Homo sapiens: one gene and its partners. The protein of the gene in region 1 interacts with the protein of each later gene in a pairwise test. Each region holds a gene or a part of one and is shown in the gene's direction. Other genes may lie near its edges. The genes, in order: SEC31A, SCYL1, TSC22D2 and FHL5.

Region 1 (7,944 bases):
AATCTTTGTTCTGAGTTTTTTTCCCAATTATAGTAAAATTGGAGGTCTTAACTGTTCTACATTAGATAAATATATGCATTTGTTTTAAAGAGCTAAGCAATGAGAATCTTACAACTAGAGCTGAAGTTCAAGAAATAAATGTCCAATGATTAAATTTTTTCCACTGCTGTTCACATCATGATTTGTTGTGATTAATGTATGTGGATGAGGACATAATAGAAAAAGAAAATGATGAGACTTGTATATATTGTGTTTCTGCACAATGAGTTCCTTTGAATGTTTTTCGTTTTAGGAATAAAATTGAAGGGTGTTTTTCTTAGAGAACATCATTTGTCATATTTATTTGATCAAGAAGTTGAAGATTTATATAATAAGGTATGGGACTTACACATTTATTTTGATAAAAGAACACAGAAAAGGTCAGGTATGAGCAGAAAATTGACATTTATTTCAGCCTAATGTGGATACTGTACTCTGAATTAAAAATTTCTTTTCCTTACTCTTCCAGCTTTTAAAGATAAGTATTATTTCAAAATAGTATTTTTTTAATTAATAGATTCAATTCAGGAAAGGCATTGGAGGGGGTGGAGCTTTTAACTTTGACAGTCTCACTCTGTTGCCCAGGCTGGAGTGCAGCGGCGCAATCTCTGCTCACTGCAATCTCTGCCTCCTGGGTTCAAATAGTTATTGTGGCCCAGCTTCCCAAGTGGCTGGGATTAGAGGCGCATGCCACCACACCCAGCTAATTTTTTTTATTAAGTAGAGACCATGTTTTGCCATGTTGGCCAGACTGGTCTCAAACTTCCAGCCACCAACCTCAGCCTCCCAAAGTGCTGGGATTATAGTCATAAGCCACCACACCTGGCTGTTGGTTATCTTTTCTTAGAAATAATGATATAATCTTTTCAGCACCTGATATTCTTAAAGATCCAGGGTTTACAAATGACTGTTAGATATGCCAAGGATGACTAGCCTATAACTTAAGGATCTGTTCAGGAACAGTAGAAAAGAAGGTGATAGGAAACTGGGAATCTTAAATCTAATACTAGTTCTGTCATGAATTAGGCTTGTTATTGTAGTTGTTTCTCAAATTTAAGAAAATATGAGGGGTCTTGAAAAAGTGCATGGAAAATGCATATCATGAAAAAACTATGCATGGATTTCAAAATTTTTGGACCAAAATAAACTCCTACTAACTTGTTATAACATGTCTGAACAGGATCTAGTTTGAAGCACTAAGAAGAATAAGACATCAGTTTGAAAAGAGGCTCTATCAGAACAACACGAATTCTGCTAAAATTGAAGCAAGAACAAACATCAAATATATGTTGACACTTGGGTGGAAGAATGGTGAACTAATTGATGCTTTATGAAAAGTTGATAGGGACAGTGCTCCAAAGAAATCAGTTTACAAATGGATAACTCGTTTTAAGAAGGCATAAGGTAATGTTGAAGAAGAAGCCCACAGTGGCAGATCATCCACATCAGTTTGTGAGAAAAAAGTTAGTTCATGGCGTAATTGAAGAAAACCAACAATTAACAGCAGAAACAACAGCCAACACCATAGACATCTCAGTTGGTTCACCTTACACAATTTTGACTGGAAAAGTTCAGCAAACTTTATACCTGATAGGTACCAAAACCATTGCACCCAGATCAGCTACAGACAAGAATAGAGCTTTCAATGGAAATTTTAAATAAGTGGGATCAGGATCTTGAAGCCTTTCATTGAAAAATTGTAACAGGAGATGAAACATGGCTTTACCAGCGCAATCCTGAAGACAAAACACAAAGCAGTGGTTACCAAGATAAGTAGTTCAGTTAAAGCACAAGAGGACTGGTTGAGAGCAAAGGTCATGGCAACAGCTTTTGAATGCTCAAGGCATTTTGCTTGTTGACTTTCTGTAGGGCCAAAGAATGGTAACGTGCTTATCATGGGAGTGTTTTGAGAAACTTAGCCAAAGCTTCAGCAGAAAAATCCCCGAGAAAGACCAGAGAGTTCTTCACCACAACAATGTTCCTGCTCATCCCTCTCATCAAACAAGGCCATTTTGCAAGAGTTTTGATGGGAAATCACTAGGCATCCACCCTACAGTCCTGGTTTGGCACCTTCTGACTTTTTGTTTCCTAATCTTAAAAAAATTTTTCAGGGCAGTACATTTTTCTCAAGTTAATGTATAAAGAAACTGCATTGATGTAGATAAATTCCCAGAACTCTCAGTTCTTTAGGGATGGACTAAATAGCTGGTATCATCACTTACAAAAGTGTCTTGAATGCTATAGAGCTAATGTTCAAAAATATAGTTTATATTTTTTATCTTTTAACCATTTTTCCACAAACTTTTTGAAGTCTCCTTGAATATGTACCATTTATAAAGGGGAAAAATTCTGTGACTACTCATGTTGACTTAATGCTGACTTAATTTTCTGTTTTGTAAATATATACAAACAAGTTGATACAAATTTTGTTTATAGCCCTTAAACAAATTTGTGAAATAAATGCATTCAGAAACAAACTAAAACAATGAAATGGATGCTACTGTTTTACTGAGGTGTAAGCATAGTACTGGCTGCTATGGAAAAAGTTACATAAACATTCATGTATCTTGTGATGATTGTTTTGTCTACAACTTCACTCTTTGCAGACATCAAGACTGTTGAAATGAGGGGAAGGGATCTGAATTCCCAAAAGAATGTCAAATGGGCATGGAGGCTCATGCCTATAATCCTTGCACTTTGGGTGGCTAAAGCAGAAGGATCCCTGGAGGCCAGGAGTTCCAGACCAGTATGGGCAACAAAATGAGTCCCTGTGTCTACAGAAAATAAAATAATTAACCAGGCATGGTGTTGTGTGCCTGTAGTCCTAGCTACTTGGGAGGCTGAGGTGGGAGGATCACTTGCGCCCTGGATGTTGAAGCTGCAGCGCGCTGTGATCATTGCCACCACACTCCAGCCTGGGCAACACAGCAAAAACCTGTCTCTAAAAAAACCTAGAATATCTTTGTGCTATGCAAATCCTAATTTGAAAAATTTGTCATTAAATTCTCTCCAAACATTCTTCTAGTGAGCAATTCAGTTTTTATTTGATTCAGGATTAGGCTTGGATAGTAGTTAACTAAATTGGATTTAGTTTTGTGAACTAAAGAGTTTTTCTTTTTTTAGATACAGGCAGTCTTTGCACAGTTCCAATATGCATAAATACCAGTGACCACAGTTAAATAAAACCAGTCCAACAATGTGGTTAATAATTCCATTACCACAGTACTGAGAAAACTTGCATAAATTTTGCTGCTAGCTCTTTAGTCCACAAATCATTGTGCCCCCCCCCCCAAAAAAAAGATGTGCATCATGATCAGTCGCCAGTTACATTACTTTGCTTTCAAAGTTTGTTGATTTGTTACTGATCATCTGTTTAGTTCATGCACAGATAGCAGAGCACAAAGTGCATAGTACTGTTGCCTCCTTGACCCCAGAGATTAAACTTGTGACCATTTATAAAAATGGATAATTAAAAGAGGTAATTGGTCAACAAAGGACAGAGCAGCAAAGAAAAGTGATAATGCTGGAAGTGAAATTGGATGTGATTAGATTTGAAAGTGGTGACAGCAAAGCAAAGATAGGTTGAGACCCAGACCTGCATGAAGCTGTAATACAAGCCTATTGAAAAAGTCTGATAAATGTAAAAAGGTAAAGTTGCTTCAACGTCTTTCAGTTTTAATTGCACTAGGAACAGAAAGCTGCTTGCGGTTGAAATGGAGCATTTACTTGTTTGAATTGAAGACTAATCAAAAACAAATCCCAATCAGTTTGACTAGCATTCAGGCCAAAGTGATAACCTTAGTTACTGCGTTGAAAGAAAATGGTAATTAGAAGACTGAAAGAGAATATATTACTACCAGTAAAAGTTGGGTTCATTATTTCAGAAGTTGGCGTGAATTGATGTTAAGCTGTCTTATGAAGCTGCAAGCTTCAGATGGAATGTTACAGAAGATGTAGCTGACTGTGGGAATGTTAACACTGCTGCTGTTCAAGGGGCAGGATCCTTCTGCTTTAGCTACCCAAAGTGCAAGAGTTGGCTTTGAATGCTAGATGTAATGAGAAAAGAACTTGTCTAGAAGTTAGGAGATCTGGGTTGAATCCAATTTCTGGTAATTTAGCAAGTGATTTTCCTTTGGCTTCACCTTGCTGTAAAATAATTCCTCCCTAAACTAAAAGTACACTTAGGCAACGCATCTAATTAGATTTGAGGTTGTGGAGAAACAGTGGCAGAAGGTGAGTGCTACCGGGTCTCAATACCATGGGATAGTAACAAGTATGAAACGGTACTAATTGGAATTAATATAACACCCCATCTATACCTCTTTGTCCACAATAGCCTTTGGGAATGCCCAGATTGTTTCACTTTGTATAAGTTCTCAAAACGCCAGAATGTGCAATCAAGTGGGTAATTTTAAGAACTCAGTCACAAATTACAATAAAGCCCTTGCAGCCCGATTTTCCACCTGGTTTGGCGCGGGCAGTGTCGCCAGGGGCTGCCGACGCCTCACAGGACTAGTGCTACGTGGCGTTCCTGCGGGCCACGGCGGTTATTCGGCCAGACGGGGACACCCTCTGCACTAGTCCTTTACCCACTAGTCCTGGCTACCCCATCCACATTCTGCGCGCCGCCCCTCAGAAAAGGGTTTCTACGATCGCCGGGGCGCGATGACCGCAGAGCGCCACCAACCAGCGGAGCCGTACCCCGCCTCCCAGGCTACCGCCGGTCCCGGAAGTGCCGTGGCGGGCTGTGCGTCGGGTGGGCGGGGAAAGATGTCGCTCCCGGAAGTGTTGGGCGCAGGGCGTGGCTGCGGCTGCGGCTGCCACGTTGGAACGGAACGTGGAGGTGGCCCTGGCCGGGGAGGAGGGGCGGCGGCGAATGCTGGGAGAGTCCGACGAGCGCTGCACTAACGCAGGATCCGGCTGCCGAAGGTCCTCGCCAGGTGCGTCCGCCCGTTGCTTTTTGTCCTCTTCGCCGGTCCTTAAGCTTTGAGGTAGAGCCCAGGCCAAAACTGGGACCGCAGCCTGGGTCTCCGCTGCCCCGCACCAGCCTGAGGCCCGGTCTCTGGTGACGGCGCGCCCCTAGTCTTGGTTTCGGGCCCGGCGGAACAACGCCTGGCATCTGGACTCCAGTGATCGCGCCCGTCCGCATTCGCCGACGTCTCCACTGCTGAGCAAAAGCCACCCGAGGCTGGCGACAGTGTCTTGCCGGGGAGTAGTAGCCGGGCTGGTAACTGGAGTTTGAGATTAGGAGACTTTCAGACCCTTGTGCACAAAGAGGTGCGGTCCCCGAGGGTGAGGAGAGGAAAAAAAATCTCAGGATTACTTTGGCTTTGGTTAGGATTTTTTTTTGTACTTGAACTATTGCCAGATTTAAAGGTTCATAGGTTTGAACTGACGTCTACTGTCATTTAACTAGGATTATTTTAAGGACGGTGGTAGCCAGGCGCAGCCTGTACTTTGAGGGCAGTCTCATTAAGTGTTACATGTTTTTGCTAATAAGTTGTTAAATTACGGGGCTGTTGTAAAATAAACCAAAATATTGCCTGGACTTGTGGGCATTATAAATTTTTTCTTGCGCTTAAGGAATTAATTTTACGTAGGGCTATTTGAAGTTGCAGTGATCTGATAGTCTGTGACAAATCCTTTCTCCTAACTTATTTTTTCTAACTATAGAAAACTGAAATTTGGTTGTCTTTGTGGGCAGTTATAACTGTATTTAATCGATAAGGGTGTGTTCTTGTTACAGCGTCCTGCGTTTTCTGTACCTCCGTTTATTCAAGAGTTGGCAAAAGCTTACTCTCCTTTTTTTTTTTTTTTTTTTTTTTTGAGACGGAGTCTCGCTCTGTCACCCAGGCTGGAGTGCAGTGGCGCGATCTCAGCTCACTGCAACCTCCGTCTCAGCCTCCTGAGTAGCTGGGATTACAGGCGCCCACCACCACACCTGTCTAATTTTTGTATTTTTAGTAGAGACGGGGTTTCACGCTGTTGGTCAGGCTGGTCTGGCACTCCTGACCTCAAGTGATCCGCCCGAGTTGGCCTCCCGAAGTGCTGGGGTTACAGGCATAAGCCACCACGCCCAGCCTACTCTCCTTTTTTAGTGGTTCTTCTGTGCTCCTTGTTTCTCACTATCCCTTAATTAACAGCTCAGGGAGAGGTTTGTAGACTCTTAAGAACTTTTGGATAACTCGTAGTGTTTTTGTAGTTTTGTAGTGATTTTATCTTAAATACGTCCGCGGTTATTTGTGAAATTTGAAATTTGAGGTGGATTTATAATGATATTGCTTAATTTTATATAAGCAAATTCTTTATTGAAACCAATAACATGGGAATAGAAATAAATTTGTAAACTGTGAAGAGCAATGATTCAAAATTTTGGGGGGATTTCACTGTCTTACGGGAATCTAATGAAAGCATTGGAAGAATGCACATATACACACATGTAGGATTTTCTTTTTTTTTCTTTTACTTTTTTTTTTTTTTTGAGACAGGGTCCCTCTTTGTTGCCCAGATTGGAGTGCAGTGGTGCAGTCATAGCTCACTATAACCTTGAACTTTTGGGCTCAAGAGATCCTCCCGCCTCAGCCTCAGAAGTAGCTAGGAATATGCACGTGGCGCACGCCCAACTAATCTTATTTTTTATAGAGATGGGGGTCTCACTGCGTTCCCCAGGCTGGACTCAAGCTCCTGCTTTCAAGTGACATGTAGGATTTTCTATATACATAATATTATGAAGTTTACAAGTTAAAAACTCCTGTAAGGGGATATTACTAGATTGATTTACATTGATTACATTGTTGTTAGGAATGTCATTAGGTTAATTTCAGCTCAAAAAGTTTTATTATACTGAAGATTAGTATGACACCAATTAGTTCAGTAACCAGTGCACAGTTGCTTTCTCCTTTGATTTGGTTTGGGTTGAGTGAAATGAACCTAGAACATTGAAAATACTAAATAAATCCTCTAAACAATTGTTTCTATCCATATTGAGATATTTTGCCTGCAGAAAATGGATTTTTACTGAAAGCAGTGCCAACTAGGGATTGTATACCTGGTTTGGGAATCCAAGTTCCAATTCTATTACCTCTTTAACTTTTTACTTGCTTTCTGAGTTATGGATCAGCTCTGTATATAGCATTGCAAGGTTGGTATTTTTCAAAGAACAGTGCTGGTGGGTTTTAGTATTGCTTCACAAAATTTACACTTTGAAAATGAGCAGAAATAAAAAAGTTTCCACCTAATTGAATGCAATTATTGAGAGAAAGTTGCATGAAAAATAAAGAGTTCTAGTCTAGAATATAAATTTTCCTCAAGAAATTTTTTTTTTTTTTTATTTTTTTCTGAGGCAGAGCCTCGCTCTGTCACCCAGGCTGGAGTACATTGGCGCGATCTCGGCTCACTGCAAACTCCGTCACCTGGGTTCAAGCGATTCTCCTCCCTCAGTCTCCCGAGTAGCGGGGACTACTGGCCGCGCCATCACGCGCAGCTAATTTTTGTATTTTTAGTAGAGACAGGGTTTCACCAGGTTGGCCAGGATGATCTGGATGTCTTGACCTCGTGATCCGCCCGCCTCGGCCTTCCAAAGTGCTGGGATTACAGGTGTGAGCCACTGCGCCTGGCCGTGTCTGTGTGTATATATATATATGTTTTTTGTGTGTTTTTTTTTTTTTTTTTTTTTTTGAGACGGAGTCTCGCTCTGTCTCCCAGGCTTACTGCAACCTCTGCCTCCCGGGTTCAAGCGATTCTTCTGCCTCGGCCTCCTGAGTAGCTGGGATTACAGGTACACACCACCACGCCCGGCTAGTTTTTGTATTTTTTAGTGGAGACGGGGTTTCGCCATGTTGGCCAGGCTGGTCCCGAACTTCCGGCCTCAAGTGATCTGCCCACCTCGGCCTCCCAAAGTGCTGG
Region 2 (4,154 bases), on another chromosome or scaffold:
GGGACAGAAATGGGGTCCCTTTCTTCAACATGCTGGACAGGGCCAGGCCCAGGCTGGGAGGTGGCCTTGCAGGCTTTGATGGGTGTGCTCTGGGATGAGGGCTGCCAGGAGGCTGTTCCTGCACAAGGCCCTTTGCCCGCCACAGCCCACAGTTCCCACTCATTTCTGCCCCACAGTCCATGCTGCTCCTGGCCCCAAAGCTGAACGAGGCCAACCTCAATGTGGAGCTGATGAAGCACTTTGCACGGCTACAGGCCAAGGATGAACAGGGCCCCATCCGCTGCAACACCACAGTCTGCCTGGGCAAAATCGGCTCCTACCTCAGTGCTAGCGTGAGTGTCCTGCACAACTGCTGGAGCCCGGTCCCTGTCGCAGGACCACAGCCTCCTCCAGGGCCAGGAGTCTTGTGTGTGGGGGCCTTCATTCTCCCAGAGACTTAGACCCTGCACGCTGTTGGCCCCATATCTGGGTTCCCAGAGGAGGAGTGAGTTGGCCGAAGTCACACAGTCAGGAGGGATCTGGGATCTGAATCCAGGCGTGCTTGGCCCCATGGCCTGTGTGCATCCCTTCAGCCAGGGTTTGTAAGTTCAGTTGCTTGCCGTGCCCAGACAGTTAACAGGAATGAACGGTCAGCTGGGCAGGGAGGAAGGGAGCCTGTGTCCGAGCCCTGGGGACAGCTGCTGTTGTGGTCCCATGCCCTGAGGCAGTGTGGAACCCAGTGATTTGGGAAGAGAAGCCCAGGTCCAGAGTTTTAGGTCAACTCTCCCCATTTAAGTGATTCATTCATATTTTTCAGATTCTGGGGACCTATGGGTGGTCCCATTCTGGGAAGTAAGGGCTGGTGGTTCTGGGTCCCAACATTGACCCTACACTCAGGAGCCCTCTTTCCTGCCCCATCGTAGACCAGACACAGGGTCCTTACCTCTGCCTTCAGCCGAGCCACTAGGGACCCGTTTGCACCGTCCCGGGTTGCGGGTGTCCTGGGCTTTGCTGCCACCCACAACCTCTACTCAATGAACGACTGTGCCCAGAAGATCCTGCCTGTGCTCTGCGGTCTCACTGTAGATCCTGAGAAATCCGTGCGAGACCAGGTGAGGCACAGCTGGGCCTGGGCCCTGGGCTGGGGCTGTAGGGGATGTCAGCCCCTAGCTGGCCTGGTAGGTTCTTGGGAACCCCAGAGACCCCAGCTCTGCCTCGTTACCCCACAGGCCTTCAAGGCCATTCGGAGCTTCCTGTCCAAATTGGAGTCTGTGTCGGAGGACCCGACCCAGCTGGAGGAAGTGGGTGAGTGGCTTACACTCGTGTTCCCTCTTTCCCTGCCATGTCCTTGACTGTGACCTGTTTGTGTCCCACCCCCACTGGAGTTTCTGAAAGGTCCTAGTGAGCAGACTTGACTCAGCTCCCCCTTCACAGATGGGAGAAATCAGGCCTGGAGAAAGGAGGGGTGGCTGCAGGGCACTGTCAGTTCCTGCTGTCCTGTCACCCATGGGTGCCTGACGTGCCCATACCCACCTCTCTCTCATGCCACTGCCCAGAGAAGGATGTCCATGCAGCCTCCAGCCCTGGCATGGGAGGAGCCGCAGCTAGCTGGGCAGGCTGGGCCGTGACCGGGGTCTCCTCACTCACCTCCAAGCTGATCCGTTCGCACCCAACCACTGCCCCAACAGAAACCAACATTCCCCAAAGACCCACGCCTGAAGGTGAGTGTCCTGGCCTAGCTGCATCAGTGGCTGAGAGGGCTGAGAGCTGCAGGCACCCAGGAACTCTTACTGTCTGACTCCCCCGGGGATGGTGAAGGGGATATAGGAGCTGGGTAGGCTCCAGTCACCCTGTGGGCTTCCTTGGTGCCCCTTCCCCCCAGTAGCCCCCTTCCCCTAGCAGCCTCTGCCCTGTCCCAAGACCCCCCTGAAAGCTCAGTGAGCCTCTGCTCCCCAGGAGTTCCTGCCCCAGCCCCCACCCCTGTTCCTGCCACCCCTACAACCTCAGGCCACTGGGAGACGCAGGAGGAGGACAAGGACACAGCAGAGGACAGCAGCACTGCTGACAGATGGGACGACGAAGACTGGGGCAGCCTGGAGGTGTGTGGGGCTGAGGGAGCCTCCCCAGGGGACCCCAGCTCAAATCCACAGGCTGCCATTCAGGGAGCTTCTGTGGGGCCTGGCTGGAGTTGGCCTGTCCTCATCAGCACAGCATCCCTGGCACGTAGGCCTCATGGAGTGGCCATTGTAGGCCAGAGCCAGCAGCAGGCCCCATTCAACCCCAGCGGCCCCAGGGAGCAGGCTAGGCAGATGGTGCCTGGGGCATTCCCTGAACTTCCTCACTCTTACCCACACCGTCCCCCTTTCCCCTCCTCCAGTGCCCACCCAGCCATGGGGGTCAGCAAGGAGAGGCCACTCCTGGGTCTAGAACCAGACCAGTTCTGCTTGGGGGATGGGCTCAGGTTGGGCTGAGGGAGGACTGGGGCTGTCCTCAGAATGGGGCAGAGCTGGGGGCCCAATTTCCCCATCTGGCTGACAGCAGCAGTTTCTGGCCCTCAAGGCTGTTGGAAGGGGCATCTAGATCTCATTCCCCAGCCTTAAAGAGGGGTGAGGGCAGGCCAGGGTCAGCGTCCATTTAATAGATGGGAAACAGGGCCTGAGGAGCAAATGAGGAGGAAGGCAAAAGACAGTGGTGGGGCCCGTGGCTGGGATGATGCTGGGGCGGGCTCACTTGCCCTTTAGCATGGGGTGGGAGTCAGTGGTCCCTTCCCACACTGCAGCAGGAGGCCGAGTCTGTGCTGGCCCAGCAGGACGACTGGAGCACCGGGGGCCAAGTGAGCCGTGCTAGTCAGGTGAGCTGGGTCTGGTGGGGAGGTGTGTGTATGGGGCTCTTTCCTCCTTGGGCCCAGGGCTACTTCCCCCTCCCGCTCTTCTACAGGTCAGCAACTCCGACCACAAATCCTCCAAATCCCCAGAGTCCGACTGGAGCAGCTGGGAAGCTGAGGGCTCCTGGGAACAGGGCTGGCAGGAGCCAAGCTCCCAGGAGCCACCTCCTGACGGTACACGGCTGGCCAGCGAGTATAACTGGGGTGGCCCAGAGTCCAGCGACAAGGGCGACCCCTTCGCTACCCTGTCTGCACGTCCCAGCACCCAGGTACCCAGCACAGGTCTGGCGAGAGGGTAGAGATGGTGGACCTCAGCCAGAAGTGGGCCCCACTGCAGCCCACACTTCTCTTTACAGCCGAGGCCAGACTCTTGGGGTGAGGACAACTGGGAGGGCCTCGAGACTGACAGTCGTAAGTGCTTCCCCTGGGTGGGCTGAAGACTAGGGCTCCCCGACTAGCCCGCCCCTACAGGCCCCCGGCAGGCACTGGCTGGAGAGCTGAGACCGGGGCTCCCCTTCCTGACGCCAGGACAGGTCAAGGCTGAGCTGGCCCGGAAGAAGCGCGAGGAGCGGCGGCGGGAGATGGAGGCCAAACGCGCCGAGAGGAAGGTGGCCAAGGGCCCCATGAAGCTGGGAGCCCGGAAGCTGGACTGAACCGTGGCGGTGGCCCTTCCCGGCTGCGGAGAGCCCGCCCCACAGATGTATTTATTGTACAAACCATGTGAGCCCGGCCGGCCCAGCCAGGCCATCTCACGTGTACATAATCAGAGCCACAATAAATTCTATTTCACACCCCTTGTGCCGGGCTCAGTCTAGCCCCTGGGAGGCGGCTGGGGTCTGGCGCCGCCCTGCGCAGCCCGCGCCCACGTCAGACGTGAACATCAATTTGCTTCGAAAGCCAAGGGTAAAGAGGCACGATCTGATTTATCAGTTTCTAGGAAACACCCTCTGGGAGGAAGGCAGGCAGCGCCCGCCGGAGACCTTACAACCGCCCGCTAACCGGGGAGGGGGGCCGGTAGGGGCGCCTCGGGTCTCAAGGCGCCGGGAGGGTCTGCGGGCCCTGAAGGTCCCTGGGTCCGAGCCACAAGTCGGGGCAGAAGTGAGGCCGAGCTCGCGGAAATCCCTCAGTGATCACCGAGGTCTGGGCCGAGGGCGGCGTCGGCGGCGTCAGCGGCGGCGCTGGGGAACGCAGGCCCCGTGCGGGCGGCTGCGCGCGAAGCCGGCTTTGCAGACGCAGCGGAAGGAGCCGCTGGTGTTCACGCAGCGCTCGCTCTTGCACAGCAGCCCGCGCT
Region 3 (7,032 bases), on another chromosome or scaffold:
AATTATTGATTCTGCTTCAGTTGATCTTTCTCATTTTAAAAGAGTCAAATCTCACTATGATAACTTTGAACATAATAGAAAACATCTTGATACCCTCATTGAAACAGTATTTTTAAACCATATTCTGGGATCTTGAAATAAAATAGTCTCTTATTTGCTTAAGACTACCATATTGGTATCTCCATCGTAAATATGGCTAAAGCAGTGGTTCTCATACTTTAGTTTCTATCTGAATCGCCTAGAGAGTTTGTTAAAATAGATTACGGGGCCCCGCCCCAAGAGTAAATCTGGGGTGGGTCCAAATATTTACATTTCTAACAAGGTCTTGGTGGGTCCAAATATTTACATTTCTGACAAGTTTCCAGGTGATGCTGATGATTCTGGTTCAGGGACTACACTTTGAGAACTGATTTATCTGAACTCAAAAAATTTTAATGCCTTCCTCATATGAACCATTAATTGTTTCAAATCTATCATATCTAATTACTATCAGTATGCATTGAGTTACTATGTGCTAAGCACTGAATTCACTTATTCACAAAGATGAAGAAGTTATGGAACCTTTCTCAAAGAGCTCAATCTAATAGGATCAACAGTGGTAGTATTACAATACTCAAAGTAATCACTGTCTGTATTGAGTGCTCAGTGTGCCAAGTACTATGCATTATGTAAACTCATTTAATCCTCACAATTGGCATATAATCCTTATTTTAAATGAAAAAACTGAGGTCTAGAAAGGTTAAATAATTTCCCAGAATTCATATAGTGAGTATATGGAGGAGCCAGAATTTGCTATTCTGCCTTTTTGCACTATAAAAAGTTTGCGAAGATTGGTAGACCCCAGAAAGGATGGAGTAATTGGCTCTACCTTAGAAAATCAAACAGCATCACAGAAGAGATGGCACTGGAGCATCTTAAGGGACAGGTCTAAGATAGCCAGATGAATTGGAACTGTGAGCATTTCCAGCTGAGGGAGCAGTTTCTGCAAAGCCAAGGAAACCCGAGAGAACATATGTTCCACAGACTACAAATAGTTGTATAAGACCATAACACAATAGGCAGATGGAGTATAAGAGGAAAACAGACTGTATAAGGCAGAGGTCAAAGTCATAAAGAATTTTATATGCCAGGCTAAAAAGTTTTAAAAATAGAATTAGGCTTCTTAATTTTTCCTCCTATAACTTTCATTTGTAAGCCAGCAGTTCTCAAAGCATAGTCAGACAGTAGATTCCACATCATCTGGGAACTTGTTAGAAATGCAGATTCCTGGTTCCATGCCTACTGAATCAGAAACTCTGAGTGGGGGAGCCCAGCAACCTGAGTTTTAACAAGACCTCCAGATGATTCTGGTGCATGCTAAAGTTTGAGACCCCTGCAGTAGGTTATAGAATTCTTGAATAATAGCCTTCAAGATAGTTAAAGGTCACTATAGTGGTAGTAATTATATTTGACACTGATTTATTCTATTAGAGTACAACACCTAACAGTTGAAATATTAACACCATTTAAGGGATACATCTTCATCATGATCTATTTATACCTTGCAAACCTGTTTCTTCTGTTGTCATAAAAGAGATCTTAGGACAAGAGTTTGTTAGGTCAGCATTCAAAGAATAGCATGCTAACTATTCTTCCTTAGCTATGGGAATCATTCTAAAACTCGCTGACTGATTTTAATTATCAAAAAAAAACCCCAGTAATTTTTGTTTTTTTTACTGCTTGTTAATACATAAAACTGATGTTGTAGTTAGTATTTAAGGTGTGCTATTTAAACCAAATGTGTTGAAGGAATCAAATGATTTAAGTCATGACATGACTTAAAAGTAATTCAATCTTTCCTTGTCATGTCAATAAAAATATAGAAAGTATAATCTGGGATTCCCAAGCAAACTAATTTAAATGCCTGTCACCGTCTTTTTTGCCAAAATGTGTTCAGTATTTGTGGTGAATATGTCTGCATGGTATCTGGCACTGAAGTATATACTAAAGCGTTATGGTTGACTTAGTGGTTCTGTAGTTTATAGTTACATATAGTCATACTTTGCACAGCTCACTAAAAGCATTTAAAGCCCAGCACATATAAAGTATTTGTTAATGATCCATAAATCCTTTCTAGATATTAGATATACAAAACCTCTTTTCATCTTAGAAATAGTAGCAGCAAGAAGTGAAGGTAGTATGCTGTAATTAATGTGGTTAATGCTCAAATAAACAAACGTAGTTTCCCATGTAATGATTCAAGATTTCAAGGATTTAGAAGTGGAAAGTCCATTGAGGCATTGACATCAACCCCTTGTTTTACAGATGGGGAAACTCAGATCCAGGGAAGTTAAATAGGTGATTTGCTGATGTCCCATAGGAAGTGAATAGCAGGATATCACAGGACAGGATATTTCTGAGCCTCAATCTGATACAACATTATGGGTCCACACCATCTAAAGTAAAGTAGTTTCCAGGTATTTTAGCACTAAAATCTTAGGTGGAGTATACTTTATGAAGAATATTTAGTAACATATAAAAAATTATCTTTTCGTATTGATACAATAAGCTACAGTATCAGATTTTTCTTTACAAGAGTAATTTTTAAAAACCTAATAACTGTTTTTAGAAATAAAATTCATTAAAAAACAATAAAAGGGTATAAATTCCAGCTATTCTTACTACTTAATACATGGTAGAATATAAACCACCAAAGAGGACAATTAGCCTTCTGTGTTATTATCATACAATTGCTAAGGTGATATTTGAACTTGGAATGTGCTTACAGGCTGGATAACTTTTCAGTTATTCCCAAGAAGAACTGATCTAAACCACACATACCTTATAGGTGATTTTTGCCAGCAAGTAACCTACAGTCAAATACATGTAGGTCTGCCAGAATGTTGTTTCTTTTTGTTTTTTTTTTTTTTGTTTTTTTTTGAGATGGAGTTTTGCTCTTGTTGCCCAGGCTGGATTGCAATGGCGTGATCTCGGCTCACTGCAGCCTCTGCCTCCTGGGTTCAAGTGATTCTCTTGCCTCAGCCTCCTGAGTAGCTGATTACAGGCACCCGCCCCAAGCCTGGCTAATTTTTTTTGTATTTTTAGTAGAGATGGGTTTTCACCACGTTGGCCAGGCTGATCTGGAACTCCTGACCTCAAGTGATCCACCTTCCTTGGCCTCCCAAAGTGCTGGGATTACAAGCGTGAGCCACCACGCCCGGCTGAATGTTGAGTTTCTTGTTAACCAATCCTACCCAAAGACTTTCTGAACCATTTTTAGAAGCCATTAAGTTTTTTTTAAAAAACTAGATGTTAAAGTATAAAACTTATACCAGAAAAGTCTTACTAAGAGGAGGGACTAGAAAAAAAAAAGTCAAGCCATCATCTGAATTTTACTACAATAAGTAATTATTGGAATTTCTACATGAAAGGCAATTAGAATGTATAGTTGGTTAATGTAGAAATTTAAGAGATACGGAGAAGACACTGCCCATTTAAAATGTATCCTTTTAAAACCACTGAACAGAGAAATTCTTAATACAATTGAGAGTTAGTTTTAAAGTAGCATACATGTATTACAGGCAAATTAGAAATGTTGGCACTACAAAGGACCTGTAGAAATCATCTATTTACTGAGACTTTCATTTTAGAAATGAGAGCTTTGAGTACTGAAATTGTCAGAACAGAATAAGCTATTTTAAATTACTGTATATTTGGTTTTAAGTGAAACACAAATGTCTTTTACATTCTTTTAAGAGTTGGAAGGGAGGTTAAATTTTTTAGAATAATAACATATTCTAATTTTTTCCAGTGCATCTGGGGGAGGTGTTGTAGCCATTGACAACAAAATAGAACAAGCAATGGTAAGTAAAAGTTTACAGTTCTCCCATTTCATAGATTGTTGGTTGTATGGAACACTTAGCTTTTGTCAGTTTTAGAAAACAAATAAGTTATTTAAACCAAAGATGACCAAATCATGTTTTTTGATAATGAGATTTAGTTGAAGATGCTAGAACGTTGAGAACTTTTAGTCTAGAAATACTATTTAAGTAGATATTTCTTCCATTTGAATATCTCACATTTCATGCATTATCATTGATAAGGGCCATTGGTGAGGGGGCATACATATTTAAAGACAATATGTTCCCCAGATATTTCAGCATTGAAAATACTTTAGAGTGAAAAAGAGTATTAAAGCAAAAACAGCTGGAGGTCTGATTGAAGTAGACTGTAAGTAAGCTATAAGTAGGCCAGGCACAGTGGATTGTGTCTGTAATCCCAGCACCTGAGCTGAGGTGGGAGGATCACTTGAGGCCAGGAGTTTGAGACCAACTTGGGCAACATAGCAAGACCCCGTCTCTACAAAAAAAGTTGGTATTTTTGTTTGTTTTGAGATAGTCTCGCTCTGTCACCCAGGCTGAAGTACAGTGGCATGATTTTGGGTCACTGCAACCTCCACCTCCCAGGTTCAAGTGATTCTCCTGCCTCAGTCTCCTGAGTAGTTGGGAGCACAGGCACACACCACCACATCTGGCTAATTTTTGTATTCTTAGTAGAGACGGGGTTTCACCATGTTGGCCAAGGTGGTCTCAAACTCCTGACCTCAGGTGATCTACACGCCTCAGCCTCCCAAAGTGCTGGGATTACCGGTGTGAGACCTTACAGGACTGTTAGTCTCAAACTATTTTTTTAAAAATACCAAAATTTTAAAGTCCAAAATTACAGATCACTTTAAAGCAGTACTATGACTAGTTTAACATCAAACAGCTTTCCGTTGGAATATTGTTCCTTTGTTCTCTTTATCTACCATTTTAAGCATGTGATTTTAAACTTTTTTTTTTTTTAATTCTAAGCTTAGTTGACAATTTAAGAAGCTAGTATTTTTTGGAAATCGTCCCAAACTTTGAAAAGAAAATTCTGGGCTTACTGCTCTGGTTGGGAACTGGATTTTTTCCAACCCATCTTCCATAGGCTCGGTCAAGATAAAGCAGAAACATTAAAAGCAAGAGCAGGAAAACTAGTATAAAAACTTAGCACCAAGTAGGCCAGAACCAGATAGCACCACCTTTATCTTTTCACTCTTTTGACATTCCTAATTTTGTTTTTCACAGGATCTGGTGAAAAGCCATTTGATGTATGCAGTAAGAGAAGAAGTGGAAGTTTTAAAGGAACAAATAAAAGAATTAGTTGAAAGAAACTCTTTACTTGAACGAGAAAATGCACTGTTAAAATCTCTTTCAAGCAATGATCAATTATCCCAACTCCCAACCCAACAGGCCAATCCTGGTAGCACTTCTCAACAGCAAGCAGTGATAGCACAGCCTCCGCAGCCAACGCAACCTCCACAGCAGCCGAATGTCTCCTCAGCATAAAGCTTTCTTAAGCCTCATTAAGAAAAAAACTGAAAGCAATCTATCCTTGTGTGCCACTGGTGTTCTTTCCACTTTATACGAAAGCAAGTAGCCATGCTTTGGTTGTGTGTTTGGCCTTTTCAGTATTAGACAATCATTCTACAAGAGCTTTTCCTCTCTCTGAGATGTCATGCAGCGCTGTTGATGTCCAGTTCTATGTCATCAGTACACAAGGAGAATAATAGATGGGGTTTATTAAAGCGAGCAAAGTCTGCATTTTACCTGGTGCGCATGAGTGGGGTCTTTAAGAGTTTTGGTGGCTCTCCCATGTTTCCTATTACCCATGGATTTACCCTGAGCCTTCCTATCACATTATAAATAACAGTTCATCTAAAGAGCCACTTTTCTTTCTGATTCAGTAACATTTGCCTACATAAGTTTTCATTTATTTGTGTTTTATTTATTACAGGGCTGCTATTTTCATAATGTACATGAACAATGTCACAGAACTTTTTTAATTTTTTTGAATAATTATAAGTATCAGTAAAGGAAGTGAAAGACAGGATTGCATTTAATAGATAAAACGTTTAGGCAATAATTGAACAAAAGAATCCTGGCATATTTCTAACACTAATGGCAATTTACTTATGGTATTTATTTTCAGTAGTAAAGACCCAGCTTGAATGTAAATTTTGTATAGTGTAAGTATGAAGAACATAGTGCAACTGTACAGGTAGTCACCAGTTATTGTGATATGATAAATAATTGGGCTATTTTGATGAAGAAAACTTTGTTCATTTGTTTCTACTTTCTAAGAGAAATTGCCACGATTCCTCTGCTTTTCAACATTTCGTATGACTTTTTTTTCGGGTGGGAATAAAAAGCTGTGAAATTGTTCAACCTACTTTGTAACCAAAGAAGCAAAGCTGTGTAATGGAGTTTGGTTTTTTTTTGTTGTTTTTTTTTTTTTGTCTTTTTTTTTTTTTATAATGCACATTCTTTATGTATTTTTATTTAGTGTTTTCTCAGTCACAATTTTCTTTACTGTCTAGCATGATCTGCATGACCTATAATCTTTGAACCACTTTCGTACCTCATGTTTTTATCCAGCACTCTTATTGTAATATGTACTAGTCTGTGAACAATGTCAAATAAAAGAGAACGAACAGGTAGTTTGGTGGAGCTGAGCTAGTGTACAATACACTAGTTGTAAAAAAAAAAAAAAAAAAAAGTGAGCCATCTTTTGTTCATTTAAAATGGTGTTTTGAATTTCGTATGCAGAAAACGTTTTGTTACATTGCAGATTTTAATGTATTTAATAAATGCAACATGCAGATTAAGTGCAGTGTATACTGAGTATTTAAATTAAAATGTACATTTCATAAATACAGTTTCAAAAGAAAGCATCATTTTGTGTATACTAACACATTAAGTGTATGTCAGAAATTGATGTATAAATATATATTTTAACATTTTCTGAAATTAAACTGCAGTTTTGTTGAAATATTTGGCTCTATATGTGTTCAAAATTTGACTAGATTTGTATTTTCACAGTTCAAAATACTCCTTAAAGACCTGTTAATAATGACTTACTGATAGTTCTTAAATTTTCAAAGTAAAACAATTTAAAGAATGCAAAAATAGTGAGCAATATTTGTACTCAATATTCATATTATGTTAGTGATACTTAAGTAGGAAATCC
Region 4 (7,032 bases), on another chromosome or scaffold:
TTGTATTTCTTAACCTACCTTTGGCTATCTCTTTCTTCCCCCTACCCTTTTCTGCTTCCAGTAAGCACTATTCTGCTCTCTCCTTCTATGAGATTGACTTTTTTAGCTTCTTCATATTCATGAGGACATGCAGTATTTATCTTTCTGTGTCTAGCTTATTTCACTTAAAATAATGTCCTCCAAGCTCATTCATGTTGCCGTGAATGACAGAAATTTGTTCTTTTTTACAACTAAATAATACTTCATTGGGATATATAGCACTTTTTTTAATCCATTCGCCTATTGATGGAAACTTAGGTAATTTCATATCTTGGCTATGTGTTGTGAGTAGTGCTGCAATAAACATGGGAATACAGATATCTCTTTAACATACTGATTTCCTTTCCTTTGGATATATACCCAGTAGTGGGATTGTTGGATCATACGGTAGTTCTATTTTTAATTTTTTGAGGAACCTTCAAACTGTTTTCCATAATGGGCATATATATGCATATATTCCAAATAACATATAAGAGTTTGTGTTTCACCAAATCCTTGTCAGCATTTTTTTTTTGTCTCCTTGGTAATAGCCATTCTAACTGGGGTGAGATTATATCTTCTTGCGGTTTTGATTTGCATTACCCTGATGATTAATGACATTGACCATTTTTTGTACCTACCTGTTGGCCATTTGTATGTCTTCTTTAGAGAGATGTCTATTCAGCTTATTTGTCTGCTTTCTAATGTGATTTTTTATTTGCTATTGAGCTCATTTTATATTATGAATATTAAACTCTTGTCAGATGAATAGTTTGCAAATACTTTCTCCTGTCCTGCAGGTTGTCTTTTTTCTCTGTTGACTGTTTCCTTTGCTGCGCAGAAGCTTTTTAGTTTGACATAATTTCATTTGTCTATTTTTGCTTTGGTTGTCTGTGCTATTGAGGTCTTATCCATGAAATTTTTGCTCACACCAATACCCTGAAGTATTTCCCCTATGTTTGCTTCTAGTTGCTTCATAGATTCAGGTCTTATATTTAAGTTTTTAATCCATTTTGAGTTGATTTTTACATGTTATGTGAGGTAGAAATACAGTTTCATTTTTCTGCATATGAATATTCAGTTTTCCCAGCATCATTTTTCAAAGAGACTGTTCCTTCCCCATTAAATGTTCTTGGCAGCTTTGTTGAAAATCATTTGGCTGTAAATATGTGAATTTATTTCTGGGTTCTCTATTATGCTCCATTGTTCTATGTCTCTATTCATATGCCAATATCATGCTATCCGGGTTACTATAGTTTTGAAATATATTTTGAAGTTCAAAATGTGATTTCTCCGGCTTTGTTCATTTTGCTCAGGATTGCTTTGGCTATTCAGGGTCTTTTGTGGTTTCATATAAATTGTAGGAGTTTTTTTCTGTTTCTGTGAAGAACATCACTGGTATTTTGATAACATTGCATTGAATTGGTAGATCACTTTTAGTAGTATTGTATTAATTTTTACAATATTAATGTCTACAATTCATGAACATGAGATATCTTTCCATTTTTTGTGTCTTCTTCAATTTTTTTTATCAGTGTTTTGCAGTTTTTATTGTAGAGATCTTTCACCTCCTTGGTTAAATATATTCCTACATGGCTTTTTTTGTAGCTATTATAAATGCAATTTGTTTCTTGATTTTTTTTCCACTAGTTTGTTTTTGGTGTATAGAAAAGCTACTGGTTTTTGTATTCTTTTTTTTTTTTTTTTTGTATCCTCCAACTTTACTGAATCTGTTTATCAGTTCTGAGATTTTTGGTGGAGCTTTTATGATTTTCTATATAGAAGCTCTTGTTATTTGCAAATGAGGACAATTTGACCTCCTTTTCAATTTAGATGCTCCTTATCTCTTTCTCTAGCCTAAGTGCTCTGCCTAGGGCTTCCAGTACTCTTTTGAATAAAAGTGAGATGATTGTCTTCCAAATCTTAGAAGAAAAGCTTTAAACTTTTCTCCATTCAGTGTGATATTGGCTGTGGGTTTGTCATACATGGCTTTAATTATGTGGAAGTACATTCCTTCTATACCTAACTTGTTGAGAATTTTTATCATGAGGGGATGTTGAATTTTTCTCAAATACATTTTCTCTATCTCTTGAGATGATCAAATTGTTTTTGCCCTTCATTTTGTTGATGTAATGTATCACATTTATTCATTTGTATATTACATCCCTGAGGTAAATCTTACCTACATGGTGAATAATCTCTTTAATGTGCTGCCAGATTGGTTCACAAGTATTTTGTTGAGGATTTTTGCATCTATGCTCATCATGTTCATTGGCTTATAGTTTTCTTTTTTTGTTGTTGCATCCTTGACTAGTTTTGGTATCAAGGTAACACTGGCCTCATAGAATGAGTTTTAAAGAATTCCCTTATCTTCAATTTCTGGAAGAATTTGAGGAGAATTTGTATTAGTTCTTCTATAAATCTTTGGTAGAATTCCAGAGTGAAGCTGTCATATTCTGAGCTTCTTTTTGATAAGAGACTTTTTATTACAGACTTAATGCCATTACTTGTAATTGGTCTGTTCAGGTGTTCTCTTTCTTGTTGGTTCACTTCTGATAGATTGTTTGTGTCCAGGAATTTACCTATTTCTGTCAGGTCTTCTAAAGTTTTTGGTATATAGCTGTTTATAATAGTCTCTGATAATTTTTTGTATTTCTATGGTATTAGTTGTAATGTCTCCTTTTCATTCCTGATTTTATTGGGACCTTTACGTTTTTCTTGGGTAGTCAAGCCAATGGAATGTTGATTTTGTTTATCTTTTCAAAAAAATTCAGCTTTCCATTTTGTTGATATTTTGTATTTTTTAGTCTTAATTTTATTTATGTATGCTTTTCTTTCTTTCCTTCTAATTTTGGGCTTGGTTTACTCTGCTTTTCTAGTTTCTTGAAGTGCATCATGAGCTTGTTTATTTGATATCTTTCTACTTTTTTGATATAGGTGTTTGTTGCTGCACACTTACCTTCTAATACTGCTTTTGCTATACCCCAGATGTTTTGGTATTTTGTGTTTCTATTTTCATTTGTTTGAAGATATTTTAAAATCTTCCTCTTAATTTCTTCATTGACTAATTTGTTATTCAGGAACATGTTGTATAATTTCTATGTATTTGTACAATTTTTAAAGTTCCTCGTTATTTTGATTTCTAGTTTTATTATATTGTGGTCAAAAATTGATATGATTTCTATTAAATTTGTTAAGATTTGTTTTGTGGTCTAACGTGGTCTATGCTAAAGAATGTTTCATTTTCTAATGAAAAGAATATGTATTTTGCAGCTGTTGAATGAAATGTTCTGTAAATGTCTGGTAGGTTCATTTGGTCTAAAGTGCAGTTTAAATTAAATGTTTCTTTGTTAATTTTCTGCCTGAATGATCTGTCCAATGCTGAGGGGTGTTGAAGTCCCCAGCTATAATTGTACTGAAATCTATTTCTCCTTTGGGTTTAATTATTTGCTTTATAAATCTGGATGTTGTGGTATTGGATGTGTGTATGTTTACAATTGTTACATCTTCTTGCTGAAGTGAAAATAACCTTGTCTCTTTTTGTTTAAAGTCTGCTTTACCTGATATAAGTATAGCTATTCTCCCTTGCTTTTGGTTTCCATTTGTATGGATTTTTTTTCCATCCCTTATTTTTATTCTATATGTGTCTTTTTAGGTGAAGTGAGTTTCTTTTAGGCAGCATATACTTAGGTCTTTTTTTTTTTTAATTCATTCAGCTAGTCTATATCTTTTCAGTTGGGAATTTAGTCTGTTTACAGCCAAGGTTATTATTGATAAGTGAGGACTTAACATCCACCATTTTGTTGTTTTCCTGTTGTCTTGTATATCTTTTGTTCCTTTCTTTTTCTCTTATAGTTAATCATTGTGGTTTGGTGGTTTTCTGTAGTGACAAGGTTTGATTCTTTTCTCTTTCTCCTCATATATCTGCTCTACCAATGAGCTTTATACTTTTGGTGTGTTTTCATGACAGTGATTTTCACTTCCAGATGTAAGTGAAAATCACTTAAGCATTTCTGGTAAGGCCAGGTGAGTGGTGACAAATTCCTTCAGTTTTTGCTTACCTCGAGAAGGCTTTATTTCTTCCTAATTTCTGAAGGATAACTTTGCTGGGTATAGTATTCTTAGCTAGCAATTTTTTTTCTTCTTTCACCATTTTGAGTTTATAACTCTATTCTCTCCTCGCCTGTGAGGTTTCTGTAGCAAAATTTACTAGTCTAATGCAGTTCTCTTATGTGACTTGACAATTTTCTCTTGCTGTTTTTAGAACTCTCTGTCTTTGACTTGTGACAATTTGCCTATAATGTACCTCTAAGAGGACCTTTTTGGGGTTGAATCTATTTGGGGAATTTTGAGTTTCCTGGAGCTGGATGTTCAAATATCCCTCCTCCACAACCCCCACCACTAAATTGGGAAGTTTTCAGTTATTATTTTATTAAACAGGCTTTCTATACTTTTTCCTTATCTTCTCCTTCTGGAAATTCCATAATACAAATATCTGTTTGTTTAATGTTTTCCAATAAGTCTTATAGGAATTCTTCACTCATTTTCATTCTTATTTCTTTTTTCTTTTCTCTGACTGGGTAACTTCAAAAGACCTAGCTTTAAGTTCAGAGATTCTTTTTTCTGCTTGATCAAGTCTGCTGCTGAAGCTCTCTATTGTATTTTATATTTTATTCATTGAATTCTTCAACTGCAGGATTCTTGTTTTGTTCTTTTTATGATTTTTATCTCTTTATTGAATTTTTCATTTATATTGTGAATTTTTTTCTTATTTTATTTAATTGTGTATCTGTGTTTCCTTGTATCTAATTGAGTTTCCTTACAATCATTATTTTACATTTTTTTGGCAATTAATTGATTTCCTTTTAATTGGAGTCTGTTACTAGAGAGTTATTATATTCCTTTGTTGGTCTCTTATTTCCTTGCTTTTTCATGTTTCTTGTGTCCCTGCATTGATGTCTGTGTATCTAGTGAAATAATCACCTTTTTCAAACTTTCTGGAGTGATTTTCATAAAGAAAGTCTTTCATCCTGCAGTTGAGTTTTACTGTGCAGTTAGAAAAGGTGTAGTGACTCTGTTTCCAGATAGGTATAGAGATAGAGTCTCTGTGCAGCTTCTTCAGTTGTATTCAAGGTCAGGAATAACTGTGGGTGCCTCATAGCCTACGCTTAGAGGTTTGTGGCAATGGCACTGGCAACATAAGTTTTTAATGTTCTTTGTGTTAAGGGCTTCTGGGGTCCTCCTATTCTGGTTTTCTCTAAAATAAGGAGACTTAGCTGAGCGCATCCCTTTTGGTGTCAAGTCTGACATGGCCTACAAGCAGCTGCAGTGGCATGGGTTCTACGTGCAGTGATCAGGATTCTACATGCAGTAGGAGTTTTCAGCTCAGTATCTCATAAAGCTATTGAGGCAACTGGGCTTGGGGTGCAGCTTCACCCCTTGTGGCAGGGTTGGATGTAGGTTACCCATAGAGCCAGGATCTATGATTCTGAGGGACCCCCTAGCAGCTCAGGCTCAGGGTGCCAGGTTGTAGCTGTGATTCTACCCCTGGGGGGCAGGGCACAGCACTGGCCTGACTCCAGGGAATAAGGAGTGCTCTGGAACTTTGGCCTTGGGAGCAGGGTATGGCTGCAATTCAGAAACCTGAGTCAATAGGGCTCAGTGTCAACTCAGGTTCCAAGGGATGAGGCACTGGGTAGTAGTGATTGTAGACCCTGGGATAGTGGTGCTCAGCAGTATCCCAGAATGTGTGGGGCCAAGTGTATTTGCTTTCAGTACTCCAGAATGGTGGAGGACAGCTGTTGTTTGTTCCCTGGGTGACAGGTGGGTAGGAAAAAACACAGCAATGACTCCACTCCCTAGATAGAGGGGTACTTCTGCATCTGAGACTCTAGAGAGCTAGGCCAGTGCTGGGGAATCGAAGTCTAAAATTGTTCAGTTTATAGAGCAAGGTGTCTCAGCTCAGTTTCTGCTCAGCTCAGCCAGAGCACTAATTCCCCAAGGGACAATGTGCCACTTCAGCTCAGGCTTGAAGGATGTGACTGTTCTGGGCTGCACAAGCACTGTTTTCTTGGGATGCGGGGCATCAGTTCAGCTTAAGTAATGGAGTGCATGACTGCTCTGGATGGCCAAGGCACAATTTCCTAGGATGCAGGGCACCACTTCAACTTAGACACCAGGGAGACATGACTGCTCTGAATAGCCAAGGTACTGTTTTCCCAAGAGACAGGATGCTGCTTCAGCAGGGGCAGGGGGAGGAGTTGGTAGAGCAATTCCACCTCCACTTGACCCCACAGGAAAAAGTGTTAACAGCTGTTAACAGCACATATTGGGGATGTGGGGCTCTGGGGATGGGGTGGTTCAGGGGTGGTTTAGTCTCAGGGATGAAGGGGAGCCATGACTACTTACTCCTTGAGTAAGGCTCAGTCTAGCTGTAGTTCCTGTTCCAAGATGCCATAGCCAATAGTCACATGGGCCACAGCAGGTGGGGCACAGTGTCAACTCCTTCTCTGGCTAAGCACAGCTATATAGACTCCAGGCAGCTTCACCATGTGGGCTTGGTGCCTAAGAAGACTGCAGAGAACACCAGTGGGAAGGTCTGTTGGTGTCCAGGGTGTTGATGGAGATTGTTGGAGTCATCCTGCTTACCTCCTCACCATAAGAAGTTCCTCCTGGCTTCCAGCTGATCCCACTTGGGGGATGGGATGGTGAAGGCCTGGCATTTCCTTATTCTCTATGTAGCCATCCTGAGTTTTTGTGCTCACCCAAGTTTCTATTAGTTTTAAAATGCAGCTGCTTTTCCATTGTTCTGGCTGTCTTTGACAGAGGCATAAGCACTAGGGGCTTCTAGTTGGCTATCTTGCTGCTATCTCTCTGACCTTTAATACTTTTAGAAAGAAGATTAACCGTTCTCCTGATCAAGGTATCAAACTATTTATTATCTTTGACAGTACCAAAAAGTCATACATACATGTAATTCATTCATTCATATTTTCATTCATTTATTGATCAGTT

The links.
Region 2: the proteins of SEC31A (region 1) and SCYL1 interact in binary tests that used the Homo sapiens proteins (3 or more experiments, as listed by UniProt).
Region 3: the proteins of SEC31A (region 1) and TSC22D2 interact in a two-hybrid assay, tested with the Homo sapiens proteins (one study listed by BioGRID).
Region 4: the proteins of SEC31A (region 1) and FHL5 interact in binary tests that used the Homo sapiens proteins (3 or more experiments, as listed by UniProt).

Annotation. Positions count from the first base shown.
Region 1 is NC_000004.12:82,888,123-82,896,066, reverse strand, and holds the start of SEC31A (protein transport protein Sec31A), read left to right. Parts: upstream 1-4,913; 5' UTR 4,914-4,915; coding exon of another isoform or gene 4,916-4,979; intron 4,980-5,001; exon of another isoform or gene 5,002-5,372; intron 5,373-7,944. UniProt on the Homo sapiens protein: Component of the coat protein complex II (COPII) which promotes the formation of transport vesicles from the endoplasmic reticulum (ER).
Region 2 is NC_000011.10:65,535,051-65,539,204, forward strand, and holds the end of SCYL1 (N-terminal kinase-like protein), read left to right. Parts: intron 1-176; coding exon 177-332; intron 333-902; coding exon 903-1,091; intron 1,092-1,208; coding exon 1,209-1,284; intron 1,285-1,535; coding exon 1,536-1,700; intron 1,701-1,935; coding exon 1,936-2,078; intron 2,079-2,758; coding exon 2,759-2,830; intron 2,831-2,916; coding exon 2,917-3,132; intron 3,133-3,200; coding exon of another isoform or gene 3,201-3,219; coding exon 3,220-3,274; intron 3,275-3,391; coding exon 3,392-3,516; 3' UTR 3,517-3,654; downstream 3,655-4,154. Other genes in the region: LTBP3 (latent-transforming growth factor beta-binding protein 3 isoform 1 precursor), read right to left, coding at 4,030-4,154. UniProt on the Homo sapiens protein: Regulates COPI-mediated retrograde protein traffic at the interface between the Golgi apparatus and the endoplasmic reticulum. Involved in the maintenance of the Golgi apparatus morphology.
Region 3 is NC_000003.12:150,453,286-150,460,317, forward strand, and holds part of TSC22D2 (TSC22 domain family protein 2), read left to right. Parts: intron 1-3,790; coding exon 3,791-3,842; exon of another isoform or gene 3,843-3,847; intron 3,848-5,090; coding exon 5,091-5,351; 3' UTR 5,352-7,032. UniProt on the Homo sapiens protein: Reduces the level of nuclear PKM isoform M2 which results in repression of cyclin CCND1 transcription and reduced cell growth.
Region 4 is NC_000006.12:96,566,117-96,573,148, forward strand, and holds part of FHL5 (four and a half LIM domains protein 5), read left to right. Parts: intron 1-7,032. UniProt on the Homo sapiens protein: May be involved in the regulation of spermatogenesis. Stimulates CREM transcriptional activity in a phosphorylation-independent manner.